3 separate regions of the Homo sapiens genome follow, and regions 1 and 3 are each linked to region 2. Evidence: fine-mapped expression QTL. A gene starts in region 2. Each other region holds a variant in brackets. All regions are shown on one strand. Distances are between the middles of the regions. Region 1 overlaps IPO9 (importin 9). Region 2 holds the start of IPO9 (importin 9). Region 3 overlaps LMOD1 (leiomodin 1).

Region 1 (2,762 bases), 41 kb before region 2:
CTTAGCTGTGTGAAGTCTGTGGTAGAGAAGGGATCTCTTGTAAACAGAGACCAGAAATATATAGTCTACCTGTGTTGACTGTCTTTTGGGGATTTCAAGATGGCAGCTATTCACATATGTGCGTTAGCAATAAAGAAAGACAGGGAAAAGGGAATACAGAGAGCCATTTGAAATGTCAAACAAAAATCAATGGAGCAAATCAGGAAAAAAAAGAAATATGTGTCAGGAGCAGTGGCTCACACCTGTAATCCCAGCACTGTGGGAGGCCGAAGTGGGTGGATCACTTGAGGTCAGGAGTTCAAGACCAGCCTGGCCAACATGGTGAAACCCTCTCTCTACTAAAAACACACACACAAAGAATTCACTGGGTATGGTGGTGCATGTGTGTAATATTCGGACGGCTGAGGCAGGAGCAGGAGAATTGCTTGAACCTAGGAGGTGGAGGTTGCAGTGAGCCAAGATTGTGCCACTGCACTCCAGCCTGGGCGACAGAGCGAGACTGTCTCAAAAAAAAAAAAAAAAAAAAAAAAAAAAAAGAAATATGAGTGGTGGCAGAATGCCCAGAAAAGAAAGATGAGGTTCTACCTGACTTTGCCTTCATACTGTCCATAGAACAGGTGCTGTCGGCTTGTCCACTCAGCCATCACAAACTCTAGAGCAGGTTTGCCAGTAGGTCCTGGGAGGCTACACAGGAACTCCAAGAGAGGTTCTAGCTGAGTGTGCACCAGATGAGCGAACACCATGATCAGGGACTAGGAGAAAATAAGGACATTTGCTTCAGGGAAATCAATTTCAGAGACATAGGAGATGAGAGGGAACTGGCCAGTCAGATAAGAAATACAGTCTACACTGAGGGTATTATCCACAGGACAAGAAAACATGGGAGATTTCCTTGTCCATGTTTCTTAGGCCAAACAGATCAGACAGGTCCCATTTTACTTAACTGTCCTACAAGGCTAGTAAGAGGGTAAAATAAAATAACTCAGGACCAAAATACGAATTTTCATTTCTATCAGCCAGGGAGTAGGAAGCCCACTCCCCACTGCTCTCTTACCTGCATGACACTGAGCGTCTCTGCCTGCTGCATCTTACTGAGGATGGCACGAAGAATCTGGTCTAGATTCTCCCCGAGTTCCCGCCCTGCCTTGGAGATGAGGGTGGAAACAAGGCGGCCCACAAAGGCCGCAGTGAACTCTGAGGTGCGGGGGTCCAGGAGCTGGCT[C/T]ACCACTTGCATCACATACCACAGTCCATTGTGGCCCTGCTCATCATGCCACTGGGCTACTTGTTCCAGGGTCACTGACACATAGGCCCGCAAGCACTCTCCGCCATTCTGGGGAGACAGGGGTGGCAAGCAAGATTAGTAATCGAGGGACAGATGCCAGAAGGCCCTCAGTCTGTATAAACAAATGTTCCCAGAGGCCTATGCCTCATAAAAGCGGTGAGTCTATAATGTTTGTGGTGGGCTCATACCACTGGAGTTAAGACATTTACTGTTACAGACATAGACGTGCATTACATAATTCCCCCTTTACCTAATCAGCTATCTCACAAATGTGTATATATATTTTTTTAATCACAAGGGACAATGGCCAAGCAAAATGAATTTTAATCATAAAGGTCTACCTCTGGTACTAAAAAAATATGCTTACAATCTTGGAATAACTGGGGATACTGTAGGTCTTTATATAGGTCTTACACAAACCACTAGTTGCCTAGGGATTTCCAAGCTGATCAATATTCACTGGCAAGTTCCTATAACCTTTCTAATCAATCACAGTAGCAGACACCTGAAAAGGTAACCAATTCACCCAAGAAACAAAAAGAGAAAAAATATTCAGGCATGTCTCCCCTCTCTAGAGGCCCATCACTCTGCTGACTTTATTACTAGAAGAAATATGCAGAAAGACTTTCTTATGGCCCCAAGTCTAGATGTCTGTAACCTCTTTCACAGTAGCAATACCCAATACAGATGGGCAGGGTGCTTGGTATCCATATTTTTAAAAACTGTAACATGCTCCAAAGCACCAGAAATGCTTGGCTTTTGCAGACTGAACCCTTCCTGAATCTGCTAAGTAAATATGGAGTTGAGAATTCCGTATTTCAAAAGCATAAAACCATGTCAGATTTCTCAGCATAGTATAAGCCCATGGCTGGGGAGCTATCTTCCCTCTTCTACTCTCCATGTCTCAGATACCTGCATGGTGGCATTGTCATCTGTGTGAAGGGTACACTGTGCCACAGCAGGGAAAGCTTGGCAGATGAGAAGCTGGGAAAGGGGAGGCTTTGTATTTCGTACTACTGTTGTCAGGATATCAATGGCTGTCTGAAAGAGAGAAGAAAAAGAAAAGTCAGAATTGCCTCTGGGGTGGGGGTTGCCCAACAACCAAGATCCTTACTGGATGGGTATTACATAGCAACCCAGAGAAAGCTTATTAATGAAAGGCAAGTTTCCAAAATAAAAGGAATAATTAAATGGGTAGTACTCTCAGCCTTCTCATAATAGCTTACTAATTGATTAGCCATAGGGGTGGGCAGTAGTACATGGTAGTGGATTGGATAACCAGGTGACATACTTAGTGGCACTGTGTAAAGGTGGCACTCTGTTCAATTCACTGAGGGTACCTCTGGAACAAGAAGAGCCATTTTCTTTCTTTCTTTCTTTTTGAGGCAGTCTCGCTCTGTCACCCAGGCTGGAGTGCAGTGGCACGATCTCCACTCACTGCAACCTCTGCCTCCTGGGTTCAAGTGATTCTCCTGCCTCA
Region 2 (2,762 bases):
GACAGACATTAATGTGCATAAACGAATTTTATTTAGAAGCCGCTAAAAATTCCTTTAGATTAGTTTATACATGGTTCTCAAACAGCTTTCTCCTAACCAGTGGTTTCTCCTGTATAGATCTGATATTTTATAAAACAATGACAATTACAAGTGGGCCTTCAAAATGGTCCTTAGCCTGTTAGATCCCAAATCTTAACATATTTCCAACAGAAGAAAATTTGTTTTCAACAGCTCTTTCATACTGTGAAAGAATGTAAACTAAATTTAAGAGAGATTTGTTCTAAATTCTTTTCAATAGAAATACGTCCAGTAGGAGAGCTAACTGAAGGTTTTGAATATGATGGGTGTGTGATGGGACAATTTCCCATATCTCTGATGAAGTATTTAAGTGGTGGTGGAAATATTCCTGAGTTGGGAGATTCTGAGGATTTGGAGTTCCAGTGAAGCTCTGACCAGATATATTTCTTACACAAAGACCAAGAAGATTTCTCCTCCTGTTTCTGGATTAAATTGTTCTTTGTGGTAGCTACACTGGACCCGGTGAAAGGCTCACGCGGCAGGAAATTGATAGAAAATCTCGAACCAATGGTTTATTTTCTTCTCCATCACTTTAAAGCACACAATAGAGGACGGAGACAAAGAATCAAAAACAAAGGATGATCAGTTCCTCCAAACAGAAATGCACAAAGGTATTTAATAAGGGCAAATTATTTTTAAAATAAACGTTAAGTATGGTCAGGACAGTGAAGCAATCGCATATGCATTTAATTTCTGGGAAAACACGAAGAGTACAAACAACTAGCTAGGTTTATAACTCAGAGGCAGAAACTTGTTTGATGACATCTATTAAGCTTTGATAGCCGCCTTTTCGAGGCCCTACCCTTCACCACTCCTACTAATAGCTCCCCCTACTCTTATCCCAGTACAATCCAGCTGGTGAAGAGAACAGCGAAAGACTTTGGTCCTGGACTCAAAAAATATTTCCCCGACCGCGCTACTTCCTCCAACAGCACCAAGTCTAGCTCCATCTCCGTCCCCTGCAGATTCTAGGCTCCATCTATCTTTTCAAGTCTCCACCCTCCCTCCCCCACTCCCAGGCTCCACCTCCCCCGACCCTATCCTTCAGGCGCGCCTCTCCTCTCTCGGACTTTCACAACCACCAGCGACATCAATCTCTCGCTTCCTGCTCCACTTCTCGGCGCCCACATCTCCAACTGGCTCAGGCTCCCCATGTCCCCAGCCGGTACGGAGCTGCGGTCAGCGGATTGTGCGGCTGAGCCATCCTCGTGACGGTCCCGCCTCACTCACCCTCCGTCACCTCCAGCACCTTAATCTGTTCTTCAGCAGCCGCCCGCACCTCCTGTACTGGGGATAGGATCCCGGTGAGCGTATCCACTAACGCTTCCTTTAATCCTTGTGCCACTGGACCCGGCAGCCCGGAGGCCGCACCAGCTGCCGCCGCCGCCGCCATCTTTTCTCCCCTCAGCCCGCCAGCCCCGCGGCCGGGACCCGCCACCGAATGACGGCCCCCGCGCGCGGCCAATCCGCGAAGCCGCGCCTGCGCACCAGAGGCGGGCGGGAGCGGGCGGAGGGCGGGGAATGAATCTAAGCCTCCAGAGACAGCGCCTCCTGCTGCCTGAACGAGAACTGCACCTTTCTCTGCAAGGATCTCTGGATTTGTGTGAAAACTGAGCCCCAGACAGGTTAAGGGGCTTTCCTAAAGTTGCACAGTAAGTTAGCAATCTCATTTGGAATAAAGTTCATGATATATGACTTTATATTCATGCATCTTTCAGGTGTTAGGAGAGAGGAGGCGGGATGGGAATAGATGTAGAGGGCTTTAAGGAGAGAGGTCTGGGTCACAAATAGCCCCTATTTTAAACCACATTCTTTTCCCCCCAAACACTGAAAAAAAGTTGGCTCAAGTGACTCTCTTCATCTTAGCCTCAGGAATCCAAAGAGGGGGGAAAATAAACTAAAGCAAACTGGGAAGTGGAAGTGGGAAAACCACGGCCCAGTCCCTTGGTTTTCCAGCCTAGATGAGCCCAACCTCAAAGCTGGGAAGTGGCTGGGCAGGGGAGACACCGGCATGTGAAAGGGAGTTTCTTCCAGAGTGAGTGTTGTATGTGACTATTTGAGAATGAATCCTATTTGTTGAAAATGTATAAATTTTTTTCCCTGAGAAATTATGGCTGGACATTTAAGGGGTGCGAGAACAAGAGCAGTTTGATGATATGGTTGTCAGCAGCTGGTCGTGGGAAATGGCCTACGGTGCAGAGCCGCTCCTGAATAGCGGAGCAGGTGGAGAGGATGAGCGCTCCAGTGAGGTGTTAAAAATGCAGGGTGTGGCGAGGCGCAGTGGCTCACGCCTCTAATCCTAGCACTTTGGGAGGCCGAGGCAGGAGGATCGCTTGAGCCCAGGATTTCGAGAACAGCCTGGGCAACATAGCGAGACTTCGTCTCTACAAAAAAATACAAAAATTGCCCAGGCGTGGTGGCGTACGCCCTGTAGTCCCGGCTGTTCGGGAGGTGGAGGTGGGAAGATCACTTGAGCCCAGGAGGAGGAGGCTGCAGTGAGCAGTGATTGCGCCATTGCACTCCAGCCTGGGCGACAGAGTGACATCTTGTCTCAGAAAAAGAAGAAAAAGCAAGATGTAAGCCAAGGCAGGAGGATCACTTGAGCCCAGGAGTTCCAGGCTGTAGTGTGCTGTCATCACACCTATGAATAGCTACTGCATTCCAGTCTGGGCAAGATATACAGA
Region 3 (2,762 bases), 73 kb before region 2:
TGGGAGTCCTAGCTCTGAAGGGGGCTGCGTGAAAAGAGGAGGCTGGTGGGTGAGGCTCTGTGGGCAGCTGGGCACTTGAGTACTCCAGGGATGCTGGGTGGGCCGAGAGGAGCTGCTTTGGCCCCTGATGGGGAAGGTTAGAGATGGTTACATTGACTTGGTGGCTGTTAGTGAGACAGTCAGGTCTGAAATCCAGCTTTTCCCGAACTTGCTAGGTGAAGTCAGTTAACTCATCATCTCTCTGGATCCCCAGTTTCTCTCTGAGTGAAGCCTACAAGTGGCGTGGGAACTCTGGAAAGGGAAGCTATGCAGTGCACAGTGGGCTCTGAGAACTCCTGAAATGTGCACATTTTGGGAAAGGAAGGAAGAGGGGAGGGCAGGAGTCTTTGCCCTGGAGGCCTAATCTCTAGACCATGGGCCTAGAGAGGCTGGTCCCTCCAGCTCTCACCTCCAAGCTCCAAAAGTGGACAGAATCAGTGATGGAACTGCTCTCAACTTGATGGGATCAGGGAATAGGAGAGGGAATTTCCTGGTCAAACTATGGGCAGATCCTAAAAGGGCTGATCCATTGGGTTTCCTTGTTTCCATTCTATTTGCATACTCCTCTCCTTCTGTCCCTTTCAAATCAAGGTTCAGTAAGGTCACCATCACTTCTGCTCCAGGGTCAAACCCAGTTGATCTGAGGGTCAAACCCAGTTCCCTGGGGGCCTGAGTGAGTGGGAGGGGGAGCTCTCTGCCCCTTGCTCCATCACCATAGCCCCAGTGGGGCCTCCAGTGCAGCTGGACCTTGGGGCCTGCAGGGCAGGAGGCTAGAACAGATACATTCCAAGGCCCTGTCTCACTAGGCCCTGTGCCCCTTGGCTGCTTATTGTGATTCTAGCAGAGGAGCCAAGGACTCTCGCTGCTAAAAAAACCCAGGGGCTGGTCCCCAATGGCATGTGTTTGTGGTGCAGGTACAAACCGTTTCCATAGGACTCACTTTTCTTTCCATTCCCTCGGCGAAGAGCGGAGGTTGAAGAAATGCTACTTGGGCCCGAGAGTGCGACAGAGAGCTGCTTTCCTTTCTTCCCTGCCCTCTCCCCACACCCCAACCTGGCACTCTTGAAAGAAAACTTTTTAAATATTCAAACCATAGTCTCTTCCTCTTGAAAAACCTTTAGGGGAGGACATCACAGCCTCCCTTTAAGTCCCAGTTGCTCTGGGGTCACAGTTGGACAGTTAAGTCTAATGTCTACTCTATGTCTAATGTCTAACTCTGCCACTTCCTCTGCTTCTCTGATGAAGACGAGAAGCAAGTGCTCTCAAAACAGGGCTCAGGCTCGGTGCAACCTTACGGAGGAAGAAACAGGGATCCATGGAGGTGTGGGTGGCTTATGCTGTGTATAAAACTCAAGCCCCCAGCCTGGCGCGGCGGCTCACGCCTGTAATCCCAGCACTT[T/G]GGGAGGCCGAGGTGGGTGGATCATGAGGTCAGGAGTTCGAGACCAGCCTGACCAACATGGTGAAACCCTGTCTCTACTAAAAATACAAAAATTAGCTGGGCATGGTAGTGTGCACCTGTAATCCCAGCTACTCAGGAGGCTGAGGCAGGAGAATCACTTGAACCCGGGAGGCAGAGGTTGCCATGAGTCAAGATTGCGCCATCACACTCCACCCTGGGTGACAGAGCAAGATTCTGTCAAAAACAAACAAACAAACAAACCAAAAAAAACCTCAAGCCCCCATCACAGCTCAACTGACTTGGTCCCATGGCCTCTCTCACAAACTTCTCAGTGTCTCGGGGGTCAAAATTGAGTCATAGAATCCAAGATCTAGAATCTGGCAGAGTCTTCCAGAGATCAGCTGACCCAATGAATTCCAGGGCTCTCCACAGAGAGATGCTTGTCCTTAGCTAAGTTTTTACTAAAAATAAGGACAATACTGTGAATTTAAAAAAATACACATATTTGCTGTTAAGGTATATTCTTTACTCTGTTATGCCTACCTTCTTTAAAATTAGCTCCTTCTTATTTTAATGAGATGATGATGGTAGATAGAATTTTAAAATATCGGATGGGCATGGCAGCTCACACCTGTGATCTCAGCACTTTGGGAGGCTGAGGTGGGAGGACTGCTTGAGGATAGGATTTTGAGTCCAGCCTGGGCAACATAACAAGACCCCCATCTCTAAAAAAAAAAAATAATAATAATAACAATAATAATGATAATAATTTACAAATATCCTTAATTGGTAAAATAAAATGTTAGCATATGTTGATCCCTCTACCTTTTTTTCCTTTGGAAATGTATTGCCTTATAAAATTTCTGTATCTCAGAACTATTGGCCTACTCCTTAAAAGCAGGGGCCAGGACTAAGGTGAAGGGATGTGAGGCACTCACCTTGGGCACAGAATATAAGCGGATGCCAAAAACTCAGTGAGCAAGATAACTGATGTTTTCACATATATATATATATACACATATATATATGTGTATATATATATATACACATATATATGTATATATATATATATATACACACACACATATATATGTGTATATATATATATACATATATATATGTATATATATATATATATATACATATATATATGTATATATATATATATATATATACATATATATATATATATATTTTTTTTTTGAGACAGAGTTTCGCTCTTGTTGCTTAGGCTGGAGTGCAATGGTGCAGTCTTGGCTCACCACAACCTCCACCTCCCAGGTTCAGGTGATTCTCCTGCCTCTGCCTCCCGAGTAGCTGGGAT

What was found.
Region 1: its variant is fine-mapped to the expression of IPO9 in whole blood (TOPMed, PIP above 0.99).
Region 3: its variant is fine-mapped to the expression of IPO9 in blood mononuclear cells (TOPMed, PIP 0.96).

What each region holds. Positions count from the first base shown.
Region 1 is chr1:201,869,151-201,871,912 of GRCh38, reverse strand. IPO9 (importin 9) reads right to left here. Exons shown (of 24, transcript NM_018085.5): 17 at 2,195-2,323; 18 at 1,055-1,330; 19 at 586-752. Among named protein-coding and RNA genes, the nearest start is that of MIR6739, 7.2 kb to the right of the region's middle. The variant C/T (reference allele first, on the strand shown) is at 1,223.
Region 2 is chr1:201,827,919-201,830,680 of GRCh38, reverse strand. It overlaps IPO9 (importin 9), which reads right to left and starts at 1,524. Exons shown (of 24, transcript NM_018085.5): 1 at 1,309-1,524. The coding sequence starts at 1,471. It overlaps IPO9-AS1 (IPO9 antisense RNA 1), which reads left to right and starts at 1,122. Exons shown (of 3, transcript NR_046696.1): 1 at 1,122-1,730. RefSeq lists enhancers at 1,225-1,434, 1,446-1,740, 1,897-2,410, 2,411-2,762 and a silencer at 1,485-1,724.
Region 3 is chr1:201,901,382-201,904,143 of GRCh38, reverse strand. The region is part of intron 1 of LMOD1 (leiomodin 1); the gene reads left to right. Among named protein-coding and RNA genes, the nearest start is that of SHISA4, 14 kb to the right of the region's middle. The variant T/G (reference allele first, on the strand shown) is at 1,439.